Regions from separate parts of the Homo sapiens genome. Here region 1 is linked to region 2. The links come from fine-mapping of genetic effects on gene expression. A gene starts in region 2. The other region holds a variant in brackets. All regions are shown on one strand. Distances are from middle to middle.

Region 1 (8,809 bases), 33 kb before region 2:
TAACTTTGCTTTAGAGACTGAAAAGAACACTCAGTGTTTCATTTCTTAGATATTTTCAAATGGTAATTTTTCAGCTATGGGCTGAGTCCACTGCTGGAACTACTACCATTAAACTCATCTCAGAGTTGGTGTGAGTCTCTGTCCTTTTCACATGCTATTTAAGAAACCACACAAACTATGGTATTGCATATCTGACTCTATTTAAGACACACACACACACCCTTTTACATGAGGTTCTCAGTAATGCAGAGATTAGTAAGAGCTACACATAGGAGTGGTCACCATATTGGACAACATATCTAGCAGGCATGCTCAAAATAATGTGCAACGGATATTCAATGCTGCATCACTTATAAAGCAAAATATCGGAAACTACAAACGTCCATCCATAGGAACTGGCTAAATAAAATTAAGGTATAATCCCTAAAAGAGAACACTAAGCAGCCACCAAAAAAAAAAAATAGTTCTATATGCTCTGATATAGGCAAATACTTCAAAATTTTTCAAGTAAAAAGCAGAACACTGTGTATAGTATGCAACCACTTGTGCATAAAAATGTACGTATACATAATACAGTTAATGGTGGCTGCCTGTTTGGAGAGTAACTGTGATTAGAAGGCAAAGGTGGGGAGATTTACTTTTCACTGTATTTTTATCTTGTTGTGCCTTTTGATTTTGTACTCTTATTTATTACCTATTGGGATACTTAATGCTGACTCAAAACTCGACCAAGGCAAGCCAAGGACAATTTTGAGAAAAGGAGTCAGTGAATGAAGTCTGAACTGCCCAACGGCTCTGCAACACAACCTCCATGGTGGACATAATGGCATCAGGACATTTTAGCCTGAGAACTTTGAACATTTTCTAGAACAATCTCCTCTTGTTCCAACTCCAGGCTTTGCAAGCTCATGTGCCTTCCACATGGACCTGCCTACCACAAGCTTGTTTCACAGCCCCTAATAATCCAAACTATGTACGCAGCTTAGCAATTCAGGTTTTTATCGTTTTTAAAGGCCTGTTCTTAGTGAAAACAAAACAAAATAAGGACACCAAAAACAAGTTTCCAAGTCTGCAAAGCTGAAAGTCAGATACTAGACTGTGGCAAATCCAGCAAGGTAGTATTACTCTTTGAGACACGTTTAGGAAGGCAACCAAGTAGCTTCCCCTAAAGATAGTGCTTTCTTTCAATATGTATGTTAATAATGGCATAGCTACAAGGACAGTTCCTATTTTTTCTAATATTTCCCCCACCTCGTTGTATTAAGTTACTATTCTCTCGTTAACACTATTTTTGGCTTTCTATCTGCCACCATGGAAGAGGATGACAAGTTTGCTCTAAATTCTCCTGCAGATTACTGTTATTCATTGAGGGCCTACTATGAGGTAAGCACTACTCTAGGCGCCAAGAGAAATTCAAAAAGCAAATAAAACAATCTGGGTGAGCATAAAAGAAATCTGGATGAGGGGGAAAATCTGTACAAACTCAGAGGTACAAGGGCACGGAACACAGGAGCAGGCAAGGTCCTGATTAGATCTATGTAATCAGGTGTTGTTCTGCCACTTCTCTCCACAATATCACCATTCCCCTAGGCCCTCAATGGCCTTTAGCCACCTCCACTTTTTTTTTTTTTTTTTTTTTTTTTTTTTTTTTGAGACTGAGTTTCACTCTTGTTGCCCAGGCTGGAGTGCAGTGGCGCGATCTTGGCTCACCGCAACCTCCGCCTCCCGGGTTCAAGCGATTCTCCTGCCTCAGCCTTCCTGAGTAGCTGGGATTACAGGCATGCGCCACCATACCTGGCTAATTTTGTATTTTTAATAGAGATGGGGTTTCTCCACGTTGGTCAGGCTCGTCTTGAACTCCTGACCTCAGATGATTCGCCCGCCTTGGCCTCCCAAAGTGCTGGGATTACAGGCATGAGCCACCGTGCCCGGCCTAGCCACCTCAAATTTTTGGCTGGCCTCTGCCTTCTCACCGCATAGGCAGTCTGGAGGAATTGCTGCATCCTCTCCTTCCTCTTTTCCCTTGTGAGCTCCATGATATCCTTCCCAGCAGGAACAAATGGGATGCTGCATAACTGGCAGATATCTCCCGCCTTGTACCTTAACTAGAATTCCCCAAATTGGAGTCCCATATCATTCAACTTTTGCTGTAAGTTGAGTAAAGGGAATTTTCTGTACCTAGCTCATGAAAGATGCTTAGTCAGTATCTGCTCTGCACCCACAATAGGCAAGAATTGGAAAAATCTGAATTGTTGTAATGACGATTTCTATTAAATCTTATGTTTTGTATAACTCCAATTTTATGGGTTTTAAATGTGTTATCTGGAGGGAAAACAAGATTGGTCAAATACACAGAGAAAACACTGGGTTATACCAAGTTAAATGAGTTTCTTTACTGTAGGATTACTGATGGTACGTTTTTACTTCTATTTATTTTCTTATTTTTTGAGACAGGATTCGGCTCTGGAGTGGTGGTGTGGTCTTGGTTCACTGCAGACTCCGCCTCCTGGGCTCAAGTGATCCTCCCATTTCAGCCTCCTGAGTAGTTCAGACTACAGGCGTACACCACCATACCCAGCTAATTTTTCTATTTTTTTGTAGAGATAGGGTTTTGCTATGTTGCCCAGGCTGGTCTCGAACTCCTGGGCTCAAGCGATCTGCCCACCTCAGCTTCCCAAAGTGCTGGGCTTACAGGTGTGAGCCACTGCACCTGGCTTGATGATACACTTAATAAGTTAAAATGAACCTCAAATGAGAATACTGGGGGACTATTATGTAAAGCATTTCTCATATAATCTTTTGACTTTTTTTCACAGAGGATCTTCTAGGCCCTAATTGCTTCTCTGTAAGATGACTTACCTCATAGGTTAATATGAGGGTTGAATAGGTTAAGACACGTAAAATGCTTAGAACGATGCTAGGCATACAATAACCACTCAAGCAGAGTTAACTATGATTACCACTACATTCCCTCATGCTGATATTAAACACTACTCCCAGAAACATGAAATGAGAAAATTTTTACTTATGGAACAAGTCCTCTCTCTGCCTGAGAGGAATTGTTTTAAGGCAACAAATAATAGACAAAATTTACAGAAATAATCAATATACATAACATGCTTATCAATAAGAAACATATCTTATATACGCACAAAGTTTAAAAGGCTCTTAGGAGAAAAGTCTGGAGTACTCTGAAGGCTAAGGTAGCAAATACTATGTGCCAGTGACTACAGATATAGTCATAGTACGTACATGACTAGCACATATGAACAAAGTTTAATGAAAAAACCTAAGAAACGCATAGATAAGTGAATATTACCTTGAATAACAACCCAAATATTATTTGCTAATCACTATAAAACAACTGGGAAACCCATTACATGTTCATATATGTATGTAGGCTTTCTCGGGCACATTGGCCCATGCCTATAATCCCAGTACTTCGGGCAGCTGACGCTCCAGGAGGATCACTTGAGGCCAGAAGTTTGAGACCAGCCTGAGCGACATAGAGAAATCCTGTCTCTATAAAATATTTAAAAATTAGCCAGGTGTGGTGGTGTGCACCTGTAGTCTTAGCTACTCAGGAGGCCGGGGCAGGAGGATTACTTAAGCCCAGGAGTTTGAGAGTGTGCAGTGAGCTATGATCATCCCACTGCACTCTAGCCTGGGCCACAGAGCAAGACTCTGTCTCTTTGGGAAAAAAAAAAAAAAAAGTAGTTGTTGCCATATTTTGTTTAAGAGGTGTTAGA[G/A]GTATTTGGTTGAATTTATCTCCCAGATGTGTCACAATCTGAAATTTGCTTAAACAAATTCTACAAAGGTAATATGCATCTTACACAGAGATACAGTTCTTAAGTGAGATCTATTATAATTTATACAAGAATTTTATATAAATTTATACAGGAATTTCTGTCTAGTCATCTGGGCTGGTTTTAGAACTACACAAAATTTTCTCAGAACTGAGAAATGGCCAAGTACAGAGGCTCAAGTCTGTAATTCCAGCACTTTGGGAAGCCGAGGTGGGAGAATCACTTGAGCTCAGGAGTTCGAAACCAGCCTGGGTAACATAGTGAGATCCTGTCTCTACAAAAAAAAATTTTTTTTAATTAGCTGGGCATAACGGCACAGTCCTGTAGTCCCAACTACTCAGGAGGCTAAGGCGGGAGGTTGGGGGGTTGGGGCTGGAGTGAGCCATGATTATGCCACTGCACTCTAGCCTGGGTGACAGTGAGACCCTGTCTCAAAAAGGAGAAAGAACTGAGAAATGATTAGAAAGAAAAAACTAAGCTATGAAGAATTAAATGGGTTAGTGGAACTAAATTTTAAGGGAAAAAGTGTACATTTTATAAAAGTCAACTTCCCAGCTAACCCTGTAACACTGATGGTTAATTTTTCTGGTTTTAAAATACCAGGATTCCAAAGCTATAAGCTCACAACAAATCACTGCTTCTATAATCCAGTTTCTTCCCTTTATTTTATGAGCTATTTATTACAAATAACCTGGTAATCCTCACAGTAAAAAATTTTAGGACTGGGGCCAGCAAACTATGGCACAGGCCACATACAGCTTGCTGCCTGTTTTGTATAGCAGATGGCCAAGAATGGGTTTTTAAATTTTTAAAGGGTTGTAAAATAAAATGAAGAATATGCGACAGAGACCTTATGTGAAATGAAAAGCCTAAAATATTTCCTACTTGGTCCTTTATGGAAAAGCTTGCTGACCCTGCTCTAGAATAATATTTATTATAGCTTACAGAGTAATTTCAGACAATTCTTATCAATGAGAGGTTCATGGTCAATTACCAAAATCCACAGTAATTAAGAATAGAGTAGCTTTATAAAAATATTTGTTCTCTTCATCCACACCACCTAGTTCCAATAACCAATAATTTCTTAGAATGCTAGCATAAAACCCAGCAAAACCCAGCACATGAAGGAAGCTTAAATATCAAACTTGCACTGGCTGAACAATAGTGCTTGTTGTAATGTCAGCCCACACAAAGTGGTGGTGTAGCCTGGAAACAGAAAACCCTTTTCTCTCATGGGAATTCAGACCAACTGATAAGTGAAATAAGCTCCAACCATTTTCTCATATTGCACACCCCCCATATTTCACTTAGCCAAAATAAATAAAATAATTCTCCTTTGATTTCTCTGAAGTCTACCACAGGTAAGATAAATATATCTAAAAATCTCTAATGTGTTTTCTGATTGAGTTTTCTTACAGAGAGTTCTCAAAGTACTCAAAAGAAAGCAAACTCAATACTCACTCCAGAGCAGGTCTCAGAACTCTGACCTTTAATGCCTCTAATATTCTATTTAACTCCACAAATGGTTCCTTCTGACTTGGGTCTACAGAAAGACCAGATTCCTGGAAAAAGAAAGAAAGAAAGAACTTTTGTTAGCAGTAATCAGGGTAAGGAGCTAGTGGTAAAAGTATATTCTAGATTGTAAAATATGGGGCAAGCCATTAAAGATAATTCCCTATAGTAGAGACTGATGACTGCCCCCTAGTACATTCTTCCCCTCTTTTCCATAGTAGAATCCCCAAATTTCAGCAGGGTACATAAGCAAATGGAATAAAGCTGGGTATGGCTTTGTAAGACGTTAAGTTCTGACCAATGAAACATAAATATGCACTCTGCCCCTTTCTGGGATACAAAGGTATGGCTGGAGCTTTGGCTGCTATCCTGGACTCTGAAGACAGGAGACACCCTGGGAATAACAGAGGTACAAGGTGCTAAGTCCCTAAGAGTTTCACAATGCAGAGCTACCAAACATGCTGTGGACGTCTTACTACCGATTTCTGTGCAAGAAAAAAATTTCACTTTTGCTTAAGCCACTGTAATTGTGGGTCTTTTGTTACTTAAAAGCAAACAATCCTCAATGACAGTTTACTGCAGGAAATTACATGGACACATACACAAAATCCCTGTAAGGTACAGAGAAAAACCGAGTTATCATTTATCTGAATTGTTTAAAATAGAAAAGGCTTAGATTAGAGGTTTGGTTTACAGACTGATTTTAAACTAATTCTTTCGGTCCTTCATGTTTCCAAACAAAAATGCAACAGCACATGGTGGCTTAGAACGGAGTGTGAAGACATATGAATCAGGGACTGAATCCCAGTTCTTTCACAAAGAACCTGTTAAGGCCTCGGGCAACTTACTTCTCCAGACCTTAGATTTTTCATCTGTAGAATGGAAACAATAATTTTTACTTCATGGGATTGCAGCAAGGAATAAAGGCAGGGCTTGGCTTAAGGTAAGCACTCAATATATGGCAGCTACTACTATTATGACTACATGGTATTGGTAAACTGTTGTAGAGTTCTAACTCATGTGTGATAGAAATAAAAGACAAATGCTGCTAATGCGAAGTAAAAAATTTTAGCTGGAAATTCATTTGATAAAATCGTTTAAGCTGGGCTAGAACAGAAGAACAAACATCAATGTTTTTGTCCCTTTCCTCTTGTCTGCTATACTAACCTTCTATATCAAAAATGGACATGAAGAAAGAATATCGCTTTTGCGCCCTTTGATTCATGAACTGGGACTAACCTTCTGGGACAGGAACAAGAAAAAAATGATCTGGATAACAAGTTCTAGAACTATAATTTTTGCCACTTAAAAAATTCCCCAAAATACTCCTAGTAAAATGAGGTCATCTCTGATAATTTAAATATTAAAAATCTATCTATAGCTAGAGGAAGACTCAAAACCCCACCCTGCAAATACTATAAACTCCAAGGAGTTCCCTTGTTTCTTTTTCATATCCTCCCAGTTGGCACACTGTTACCTGACAGAGCTCCTCAGCCACATCCAGCATTCCTTGTCGAAAGAAGTGCTCCACCATCACCTCATTGAGAAGCCTTTGGCTGTCTGCCTGCCAGCAGCCATCTATTCCCACACTGCTAATGTCAGAATCAAAATTCTGGGGAAAAGAAAGAGAAAGGGAATCATAAATAGATTATTTTCACCCCACTTAACAGGAAAAAAATGGTCTTTGTTTCAGTCTGAGATACCCCAATAAGAACCCAACTGCAATTTATAGCGTCCCAAAGGAAGGAATTTTTCCACTGCTCCTTTCTAAAACTTGTCATGCTAGAAGAGTAAATAGGTATATTTTTAGATAATGTTTTTTTAAAGTAGATTTAATAATGGTGTCCATGAATAAAATAAAATCAAGCGAATGAACTGATTTCTAGGCATTATATGCAGCAATATTTTTAGAGGAATGCAATGATGACCTGTAAAAGCATGCCCACTGCAGCACTGTCTATAATGGGAGGGGAAAAAAGGAGAAAACACATATGCCTATCAACATAATAATCCATGGCACATCCCAACAACTGCAGTATTGAGGCTGAAAGTGGTTGTGGGGGCATGGCCAACTAGTTAAGAGAGTGGTTTATCTACACCTCTGGGTTTGCCTTTGAGCTATACATGCATGGTCCTGACTCTAAACAGCATACTACAGATTTTGAAAACTGAACTAGGGAATAGACCTAATTCCTAGGTCCCATATTGGCTACCAGGTGTTACACACACAGGACAAATCTAAATAACTGTAATGGCTTTAGAAACAAAACTAACACTGAAACTACAACCCAGAAAAGACTGGTTAGAACTTGTGGCCTGAATCCAACAAGGTTGATTGCCTGCTAAAACAAAAATACCAACACTCTCCACAGAACTTAAACAAGACCCAGAGTACTATAATACATATTCAAAATGTTCAAGATACTGCAAAATTACTTGGCATACAAAGAACCAAGAAAATCTCAACTCACATGGAAAAAGATGATCAACAGACACCAATGCCAACATGACAGAGATGCTGGAACCATCCAAAACTTTAGGGCAGTTATTATAAAAATACAAACAATCTTGAAACAAAGGGAGAGACTTAGCAAGGAAAAAGCTGATAGAGTAACCAAAATAAAAAATTCATTGGATGAATTTTTCAACAGCAGAAGCAAAGTGGCAGTGCAAAAAGTCAGTGAAAATCAATAGAATTCATCCAATCTGAACACCAGTTTAAAAAAAAAAAAAAAACAGAGCCTCAGGGACCTGTGGGAAAATTACAAAAGCTCTAACGTGTGTGTCATCGGAATACTAGGAGAAGAGAAACAGTATGGTACAGAAAAAAATAGTTGAAGAGTATTTCCCAAGTTTAGCAAAAGACATAAATCTCAGATTCTAGAAGGTCAGTGAACTCCAACATGGACAAATTCAAAGAAATCTGACCCAAACATCTCACATTCAAACTGTTAAAACTAAAGATAAAGCAAAAAATCTTGCAGGCAGCCAGAGAAAAGTGACATGTTACTTACAGGGGAACCATGATTCAAATGACTACAGATTTCTCAACAGAAACTATGGAGGCCAGAAAGAAGTGGCATGACATTTGTCAAGTACTGAAAGAAAATAACTGTCATCCTAGAATTCTATATCCAGTGAAAATATCCTTCAGGAATGAAGATGAAATAAAGACATTCTCAGACGGAGGGAAACTGAATTTACTGCCATCAGACTTGCTCTAAAAGTATTGCTAAAGTCTTCAGACAGAAGAAAATGACACCAGAAGGAACATGAAACATCAAGAGTGAAAGAAGAGCAAACGTACATCACAGTGTGAAAGCTTTCCCAGCCTAATTCCACTTCAGCACCCTTTATCTTTCATAGGCATTGCTCCCTAATAAATGTTTTGCATTTCTTTTTAAAAATATATAAACTTAACTAGACAAGGCCATTTAGATTTAACTAAAATTGCAATCCTAGTCAACCACTGCTTAAATATACAGTCCAAC
Region 2 (8,809 bases):
ACTGCACTCCAGCCTGGGTGACAGAGGGAGGCTGTCTCAAAAAACAACAAAAAAATTTTTTTTCTGGAGACTGGCATTTATGTCTGTGAAGTGGGCAACCAGGTGGTCCAGGAACAAGAGTAGAAAGATTTTTCAATGGGTGTCCTTTTTTATCATTTGAGTTTATACCATTTGAATGTACTATTCACTGGGTTATCTTTTTCATTGTTTGAATGGATACCATTTGAATGTATGACTTACTAAAAATTAATAAATAAATTTTAAATTTAGAAAATTCCTTGAAAGTCACTTTCAGAAACCACATTAGAACTCCGTTAGTCTAAAAATAATCAGAAAAGAATACTGCATGTCCTTTACTCTTACAAAAACTGCAATTTTCCCAAGTATACTTTTAAATGTGTCCTGAAACCATTACCAACTGTTTCTGCCTAATTTTCTTTCACAAAGTATGAGTGCAGAATACCAGCAAAACATGATAAATAGTTCTTTTCTGTTTTTCCCTTCCACCACAGAGGTGCTAATGGGAAACAATATAAATTTGCCAATAGGAAAAAAATGCTAAAAGGCATATACTCACAAATCAAATCACTAAAAGTTAACCATACAGTAGTTAACCCTGTTAAGCCAGGGTTATCCAAAGCACCGCTCCCATACCACTGATGCGAATGGTAATTTTAGCTAGTATGTAAACTAATATTTTAATTGTTATGAATTTATTTTAACATGTAGTTTATTATACCTAATACCTACATACCACATGTAGGACTACACAAATATCACTGCCTAAGATAAATCTACTTAAGTAAAATCGTGAATCCATCTGAAAAATAAGAGTGCACATGTGTATGAGTGAAGTTTTAGAAGCACCAGTGCACTATACAAATTAGATCGAGGCACACTGGGAATGACCACCAGCCTACATTAACCACAATGAACTTAGACCAAACTTCGTGCTCACAGGGAAACTCTCACTGAAAGGCTGGCACAACTAAATGACAGAAGCTGTGATCTCTATTCCTCTTACCTTGGACACCTCACTGCAGGCTCTGGATCACTCCCCACCCTCCTATCTACCACCCTAAGGTTTCTAATTCCAAAGGCATGAAGAGAAGTCTAGAGTCAGTCTCCAGGGAGAGGAATGTCTTGGCCTCGGCAGAGCTCTTCAGTATTCTCCCTGGTTCTTATTGCCTCTTCATGTTTCTATTACACCTATGTTGTCCCTGAACCACCAATATTCCCTAACTGTCTATGGCACCAAGTCGAAGCCTGCACTTCCCTCTCAGAGCCTTATATTCCATTATTGTTCTCTGCTGCAGGCCTGATACCAGTCCAACCCCATTTAAAAGAAAAAAAAAAAAAGATATTCCTGTTGTCAGGCTGACGGATTTGGCCAGAGGTGGATTAAATGGCAGAGCACAAACCAATTCACCAGGTATGAGAGACCAGCCCATACTATCCTCATTTCCCCAAGTGTATCTGCATTAAGAAACTTGCATTTTAAAAAAGATTAACGAGAGAAATTTTATGTAAAAGAATTTCAAGCTACTTAAAGGTGATTTAGACCACCTGAGAAATTTTAGGGCTCACTGCAGGACTATCTCCCAGCCAGCAATCAGGCAGTATTTACAATCTGGAATAAGGGTGCTGAGACTAGAAAAGGGTTGTCAATGGGCTTACTAACTAAACTCTTATTTATGTATGATCAGTTTCCATCACAAACTATCCTAACAGCTCATTTAGTATATAGCTGTCTGCTCACAACTTCAGAGATGAAAAAAAAATTTTAACATAAAACATTCATCCTCAGAAACTGAACCAATCCCTTTAGGTTGGCTAAAGGATGCTTCTGCAACAGTCATTCACCAGTATGATGCAATGATGTGTTCTATATAGTCCTCAAAAATTCTGTTTTATTCATACCAGATTCTTGCAAGTATTACCACAAGTAATCTCAGAGAATGAGGTCCAAAGTCCTGACAGAGGGGTCCCAATTAGAGCCTCTCAGGTTATCAGAATCATTTGCCCAGACAGGTATATTCAGAAGCCCAAAAATCTTCCCTTTAAACTTGAAAATAGAGTTCCAAACTCAGTTTTCAGTAAAATACCTTTGAGAAGGGCATATTTAAGTTTCAATGTAATATCTACCACATCACCTGCCGAGAACTTTAATTTAGAAATCATCTGTTTTCAAAAATACCATAGCCCAGATGCCAAAGCATGATGTTTATCTTTACACAAAAAAACACCAAAAGAAGAAAGATTTTATTTGGGAAACTAGACCTGGCACTTGTGGTATTTATTTTCTTTCATGTTTTATAACTACCTTTAGTCACTTAATCCTATTATTGAAGAATTAAAGGAAATCAAAGAGATACCAATATAAGACTAGCAATTTGGTAGACAAGAGGGAAAAAATTAGGAGGCTGAAAAGGGAACACACAAACTCACCAACTCAGACTGTTTTTAACAGCATAGCATACTGTGTGGCCAATACCCCTCAAACCATAAATTCTGAGAAAAGTTCCCTAGTACCCAGTGGAGAGTCAAAAACAAATTCCTGCCTCAGCAATTTCTCACCATCATTTTATCCATCTGAGCCTGGCCCTAAATTTTCTAAAACAAAGCTCACAATCACATCCCCCTTCAACTTACATCCTCTCTCATGGAAGAAAGGTACTTTCTGTTCCATCATTTTCCTCTCAAACTCTGCCTATGACCTGGTCCCTAAAAACGAAATGTTCCTTCCACCTCTCCAAGTCTAGGCCCTTCATTCTCTTCCTCCACTGGTTCCTTGGCAGGGCCGGGAGCACAGAGGGAATACCTCCCACCGCTGTACTGGATTTCCCACACCTCGGTTCACATCGAATTTTTCTTCTTAACCCCCAGTAATCTGGCTTGTCTTAGCAATTCTATGAAACTGCAAGCACAGAGGGTTACTGACTCCCAATAGCCAAATAAAAGCTGACCAATCTCTCCTTTTCTAAGTCCTCGCCCTTTTCGATTTCTGCTGGCTCTATCTAGCCTTGGCTCTCCACTCGCCAAGGAAAATTCAAGACTGTGGTTAGACTCTAGTCTTTCTTCTGTGCAATCTAAGTGATCCCCTCCACTGTCCTCCTAGAAATGACATCAGAAAACAATCTTAGACCTATGCATCTCCAGCCACCAGTAAATAGGAAAGCCCTCGATTCTATCTTCATTAAGCCCTTCAACCTTACTTCACATGTCCAAAACCAAATTCAAAGTCTTCCCAGGATTCCTGTCCCATTCCACCTTCACTTCCCTGTATCTACCAACTATATCATCATCGCCACGTCAGTCAAATTTCCCTTCACAGGCAGCCACCAAGGTCTGCTCGTTTTTCCATACTAGTATTGCAACTCCTATGAGAATTAATACGGTTTTTCCATATTAAAATCTCATCCACTATGACTGCAGGTTTGCTTCCTTCCTGGAGTTCAAAAATGACTGCAGTGTCCAGAATGAGAAGCTGCTGTAAGACTCCTTTCCCATGGACCAGCACCCATCCTCAACTGAAACGCAGTCTGGGAAAGTGTGAAAAAATGAAGGAGAAGGAGAGAGACACTCAGCTAACGCCACTGCCCTCATCTCACCTGCCACAAATAATCTGCATCTTCCCCCAGCTACCAAACCGTCCTTCACATAAATTTCTGTTCAGCCCACAAGCTGAAAAGCCCCCTCAGCCTCTTATTAAAGACCCATTAAATAAGTCCTTCACTTCTTGATCAAAAGGAATCATCGCTGTGACTTCTAAAGTGTAAGAAAACCAAACCTTTAAAAGTACCTGTCCTCAGGGCTTGGGGCAGTAAAAAAAAAAACAATCTAGGTGAAACACCTTCTATAGGAAAATTTATTTTTTTTGAACGAACTTAACCAGGCAAAGCAAGTAACTAGCAACATGTGCACAATTTACTTGGGCAAATGTCGCCCGTTCCTCCTCGGTGTCATCAGAAGGTACACTGGGAGAACAGAAGGGTTGAATTGAGCTGGTTTCCAAGGAACCATGTCAGAGCCGCTGCGGAGTTAAGAGCTGCGTCCACACAGCAGCCAAATCATGAAGTTGCAGGAGCGGCTGTTGTTAACCCACAGCTAAGAATAACGCTCGACTTTCCAAAATAAAACGAAGAAACGAAGTCCCCTGGCCAAGGATTCGGGGCGGCACAGAGGGGAAACGGAGCTTCCTGCACTGCCCTCATCACTCAGAACCTGGGGTCCCAGGCGATTCAGTCACCGCCCACAGAACAGCGCCGCGGGCACCACGTGAGACTCCCGGGGCCGGCTGGGAGCGGGGGACGAGGGGCGCCCACTCGGGGGTCGGCAGTTTGCAGGTGCGATGGGCGGCCCCCTCACCCACGTTTATCCGGACTGGAGCCCGCCGCTCCCGGCTGGGTTTCCGGGTGGTTCGCGCTCCTTCTGAATTGGCAGCGAGGTCGCGGCAGGTTCGAGGTAAATCGGACGAAGAGGGGAAAAAGTCTCAGGGGTCTGGGGGCCTCCGCGCCTCAGGGGAGGCAAGGGCCGGGCCAGAGGCGCGAGGGTGGGTGAGGGATTCCCGCCGCGGGGCCGGGACCGGGGCTCGGGCAGTGGGCCATGCCCCGCGCGCCCACGCGGGCCGCCCTACCGTGGCTCTGCAGGATCTCGTGCTTGAGGCCGCCGGTGTAGTCGATGAGCTCCTCCAGGCCGCGCTCGCACAGCTGCCCGTAGCCTGAGAACTTGTGCAGCACCTTCTCCAGCTCGCGCTCCACCGTCACGCACTGATCCATGCCGGAGGCGGCGGCGCTCGGCTCCTCGGCGCCCAGGTGTCCGCAGCCGTTCGGCCCGGGCCCCACCGAGGCCGCGTCCTGCTCCTCGTTCCCCAAGCGGGCGGCGCGGGAGGCTGAGGCGGCCGAGGCGGCGGGCGCACTAGCCGCGGCGCCGGGGGAGCCCCGCGCAGCCGGAGCCCGCCTGCCCCATGGCGCCCTAGCCCCCCGGCGAGTCGCCGCTGCTCCCGTTCGCTCGCTGCACTCGGCTCCGCGTCCCCAGGCCCCGCTCGCGACGTTCGGGTGCCTGCGACGGCGCGGCCGATTGTTTTTGTTTTCACGGGAACCGACCGATGACCTGGTTCTCCCGGGCGGCACCAAGCGCCGCCGACTGGGGGGAGGGGGATGGCCACCCGGGCGAGGAAAGGAGGCGGCGCGGGCCGTACCAAGTACACCCTCGGGGTGGGGGGTGCGACCCGGCGAGAACGGGCGGAGGAACGCGACGGGCGCCCACACGCGCCGCCACTCTAATGGTGTGGGCCGTACCACACGGAAGGCGTGCGAGGGAGAGGGCGAGGGTGGAGCGAGGCCCCAATTGGCCTGAGGAGCTAAATAGGGAACTTTGGAGACAGCCCCAGCGCTCGGAGAGCGCAACAACTACGCGCTCCATAAACAAGGAGGCGGAAACCGGCCCTCACCACTCCGCCCAGAAGCGGGGAACCCCAACCAATGGGCGCGGGGAGTGGTAAGAAGCCAATCCCTGGCCGAGGCGTAAGCCTTCAGCCAATCCGGGCTGAGGGGCCAAACCAACGGGCTCGCTGTTGGAGGGGGTGACTTGGAGAGCGTACCGAGAAACGAGTAGTTTATGGAAAGCCTTGGGGGAAAACTAGACAAAAATACAAAAGGCTGTTTTCCATAGGACGTCGCCCTGATCCCAATTTATTTCGTCTCCTCATCGATCTTAAGGGAAAGGGGTACCGTCATTCCGAACTTTTGGGCGACGGATCCATCTCCCGGGAATGAAAAACCAAGCCAGGCCGCCCGGGGGCTGGTTCTGCGTCGGCGGGGGGTCCCTAATGGGAATTAAAGGCGGGGGTGATTGGGCCCGGGTGAGGGGAGCCGCTTGCTGCTCGCGAAAGGCCCGCGCCGGCTGTCAGCGCTGCCCCGGGCTTGCGACACCCAGGAGGTCATGTCCCCATCCCCCGCGGACCGTGGCCCTTTGGCCCCTTGGCCTGGAACCTCTCCTGACGGTGGCCTCGCCCCAGAGCCATGTGCCGGGCAGCTTAGCCGGGTGGAAAGAACACGCGCTGGAGAGCCGGGCAGCCTGGCCCTTGCTCCCTAGGAAGCCTTATGCTATCGGATCGGATCGGCTTTACCCCCTCGGGTAAATCCTTCCCATCGCTTGCTATGGCGTCTGCAGCCTTGGCCTAGACCTCCTTGATCAGCATCGGCTGCACTACCTTTGCATTTCTTCAGGAGCCCAGCTAGTTCGTGCCTCAGGGCCTCTGCACTTGCCCTTTCCTTGGCCCAGAAAACTCTTCCTCCTACCTTTTTCATCCTGAAGTTCTTCTCAGCTCACTTGTCCCCTTACAGGGTCCTCCCCTGGCTGACCACACTAATGTACTTCCTCCCCACCGTTAATACCATAACACATTTTATTATTTCCACACCACTTAAACTCTGAAATGATCTGATGTTTTATTTTTCTGTCTGCACCACTTACATAAAACCATGACGGCAGGCCCCCTGCTTGTCTAAATTTTTTGCCTAGAACAGCCCCTGGCGTGAGGTGGTAGGCAATTCTTTTTCTTAAATTAACGTGATAACGTTTTTGAGCCTTAACTTCCGTATAACTGAGAAATAATTGGAATTAATACTTAACTAAATTGTTAGATAAAGGAGAATATATGTAAATACCCATAATAGGCTCATGATAACCACATGATAAAGGTGGTAGTAGTCATTATTAGGGCAGCCCCAACTGGTATTATTTCAGATCTCCCTTCTCCCCACCCCATTTTTCTTCCCTCTTGGCAGATGTCTCTGATTCTTCACTGAGATTAAAAAAAAAAAAAAAATCTAGCTCCAGCAACTTCTATCACTCTTCTCCAAGTATTGCTGTGTACCACCCATTTTGTGAACATTCTCATGTACCCAAAGGACCAGGAGTCCCTTCTCCCTTTCCAAGACAGCCGTTGGGGCCTGCGGGCTGCCTCTCACCCCTGTCCAGATCTTCCCCCTCTTTCTCTGCAGTAGGTTCTTCCTTTCTACTTTCAGCCCAAATGGGTTTGACCTACCTGGGGGAGGAAACTTAATTTAACCCTCCTCAAGCACTCATTTCTTTCACTGCCAAACTGCCTAGACAAATCTATGTTTATTCCTCCCTTTTCTTCAAGGATCTCCTTGATAAGCTCAGTCACCCTTTTCTCAGTCTTTTTTTTTTCTTCTCCTTCAAAGGGTTGTTATAGTATGAAATATTCCATTTAAGGCACTCAACAAAATGCCTGGCACAAGGTAAGAGCCATGATAATCCACTGATCACAAATAATCAATGACTCCTCATTACCTACAGCTTCAGATCCTCTCTCAAGGACATGGTCTGCCCTGTGTAGCAACACAGCACAAACCCCTATCCAGGCATGAAGCACTTTCCCACCCTTAGTGTGACTTGAGTACAGCCCATTCATACTTTGCCTTCTTCTGGGACACTTTTCTTTATTCTGTTTTTCGAATCCTCCCTTTCTTCAAGTAACAAGACAAGTCTTACTTTAACTAGTGACACCTTCTAGAACCTAGTCCTGCACTCTTCAATACCATAATCACCAGCCACAAGCAGGTTTTTTTGTTTGTTTGTTTTTTTGTTTTTTTGTTTTGAGATGGAGTCTTACTCTGTCACCAAGGCTGGAGTGCAGTGGTGGGATCTCGGCTGACTGCAACCTCTGCCTCCCGGGTTCAAGTGATTCTCCTACCTCAGCCTCCTGAGCAGCTGGGACTACAGGCACACACCACCACGCCCAGCTAATTTTTGTATTTTTGGTAGAGACAGGGTTTCACCATATTGGCCTGGCTGGTCTCAAACTCCTGGCCTCGTGATCCACCCGCCTCAGCCTCCCAAAGTGCTGGGATTTATAGGCGTGAGCCACCGCACCCGACCCACGTGTAGCTATTTAAATTGAAATATAAGCTAGATAATTTAAAATTTAGTTCCCCAATTGTGCTAACCACATATCAAATAATAACCACATGTAGCTGGTGGCTACTGTATTAATCAGCGCAAAATAAATATTTCCATCACTGTAGAAAAGTTTTGTTGGACAGTGCTGATCTAGACCATGACCACAGTAAAGTTACCAGCCCTACCTTTAACTGCTGTAAGACCTCTGTGTAAGTCATTTCATGCCTTAGTGCATACTGCCCCCATATTTTTAGTTAACTTTTCCAACATGTGCCTTTTTGACTCAACTAGACTATCAGTTTTCAGATCTGGGCTGACTTCTTTTTATCTCCCATGATTTAATCAGCATGAAAAAAAGTGTTTGTTAAAGGAAAAAGAATACGCAGATTAGAGGAGAAGAGGCTTCAGAGTTAGCTGGGAGAGAAAAATAGTACTTGTAAGGGCAGAGATTTATGTTGCTTCTTCACTTTGTATTGGCCCTTTCTACACAGTGCCTAATTGCCTTAAGCCTAAACTGTGAATTGTCAAAGAAGCACCTCTAGAAACAACAGGGAAAGAAATTTAGTTTTCAGAGCAACTGCAAATTAGTTTTTTTTTTTTTTTTTTTTTTTTTTTTTGAGCCAGCGTCTCGATCTGTCGCCCAGGCTGGAGTGCAGTGGCGCGATCTCGGCTCTCTGCAAGCTCCGCCTCCTGGGTTCACGCCATTCTCCTGCCTCAGCCTCCCGAGTAGCTGGGACTACAGGCGCCCGCCACCACACCCAGCTAATCTTTTTTTGTATTTTTACTAGAGACGGGGTTTCACTGTGTTAGCCAGGATGATCTCGATCTCCTGACCCCGTGATCCACGCGCCTCGGCCTCCCAAAGTGCTGGGATTACAGG

The links.
Region 1: its variant is fine-mapped to the expression of RMND5A in whole blood (TOPMed, PIP above 0.99).

What each region holds. Positions count from the first base shown.
Region 1 is chr2:86,750,017-86,758,825 of GRCh38, reverse strand. RMND5A (required for meiotic nuclear division 5 homolog A) reads right to left here. Exons shown (of 9, transcript NM_022780.4): 3 at 6,796-6,930; 4 at 5,268-5,368. Among named protein-coding and RNA genes, the nearest start is that of RNF103-CHMP3, 33 kb to the right of the region's middle. The variant G/A (reference allele first, on the strand shown) is at 3,750.
Region 2 is chr2:86,716,637-86,725,445 of GRCh38, reverse strand. It overlaps RMND5A (required for meiotic nuclear division 5 homolog A), which reads right to left and starts at 5,155. Exons shown (of 9, transcript NM_022780.4): 1 at 4,637-5,155. The coding sequence starts at 4,778. RNF103-CHMP3 (RNF103-CHMP3 readthrough) reads left to right here and starts at 4,324. Exons shown (of 8, transcript NM_001198954.1): 1 at 4,324-4,464. RefSeq lists enhancers at 1-463, 5,429-5,962 and silencers at 4,539-4,598, 5,077-5,235, 5,119-5,308.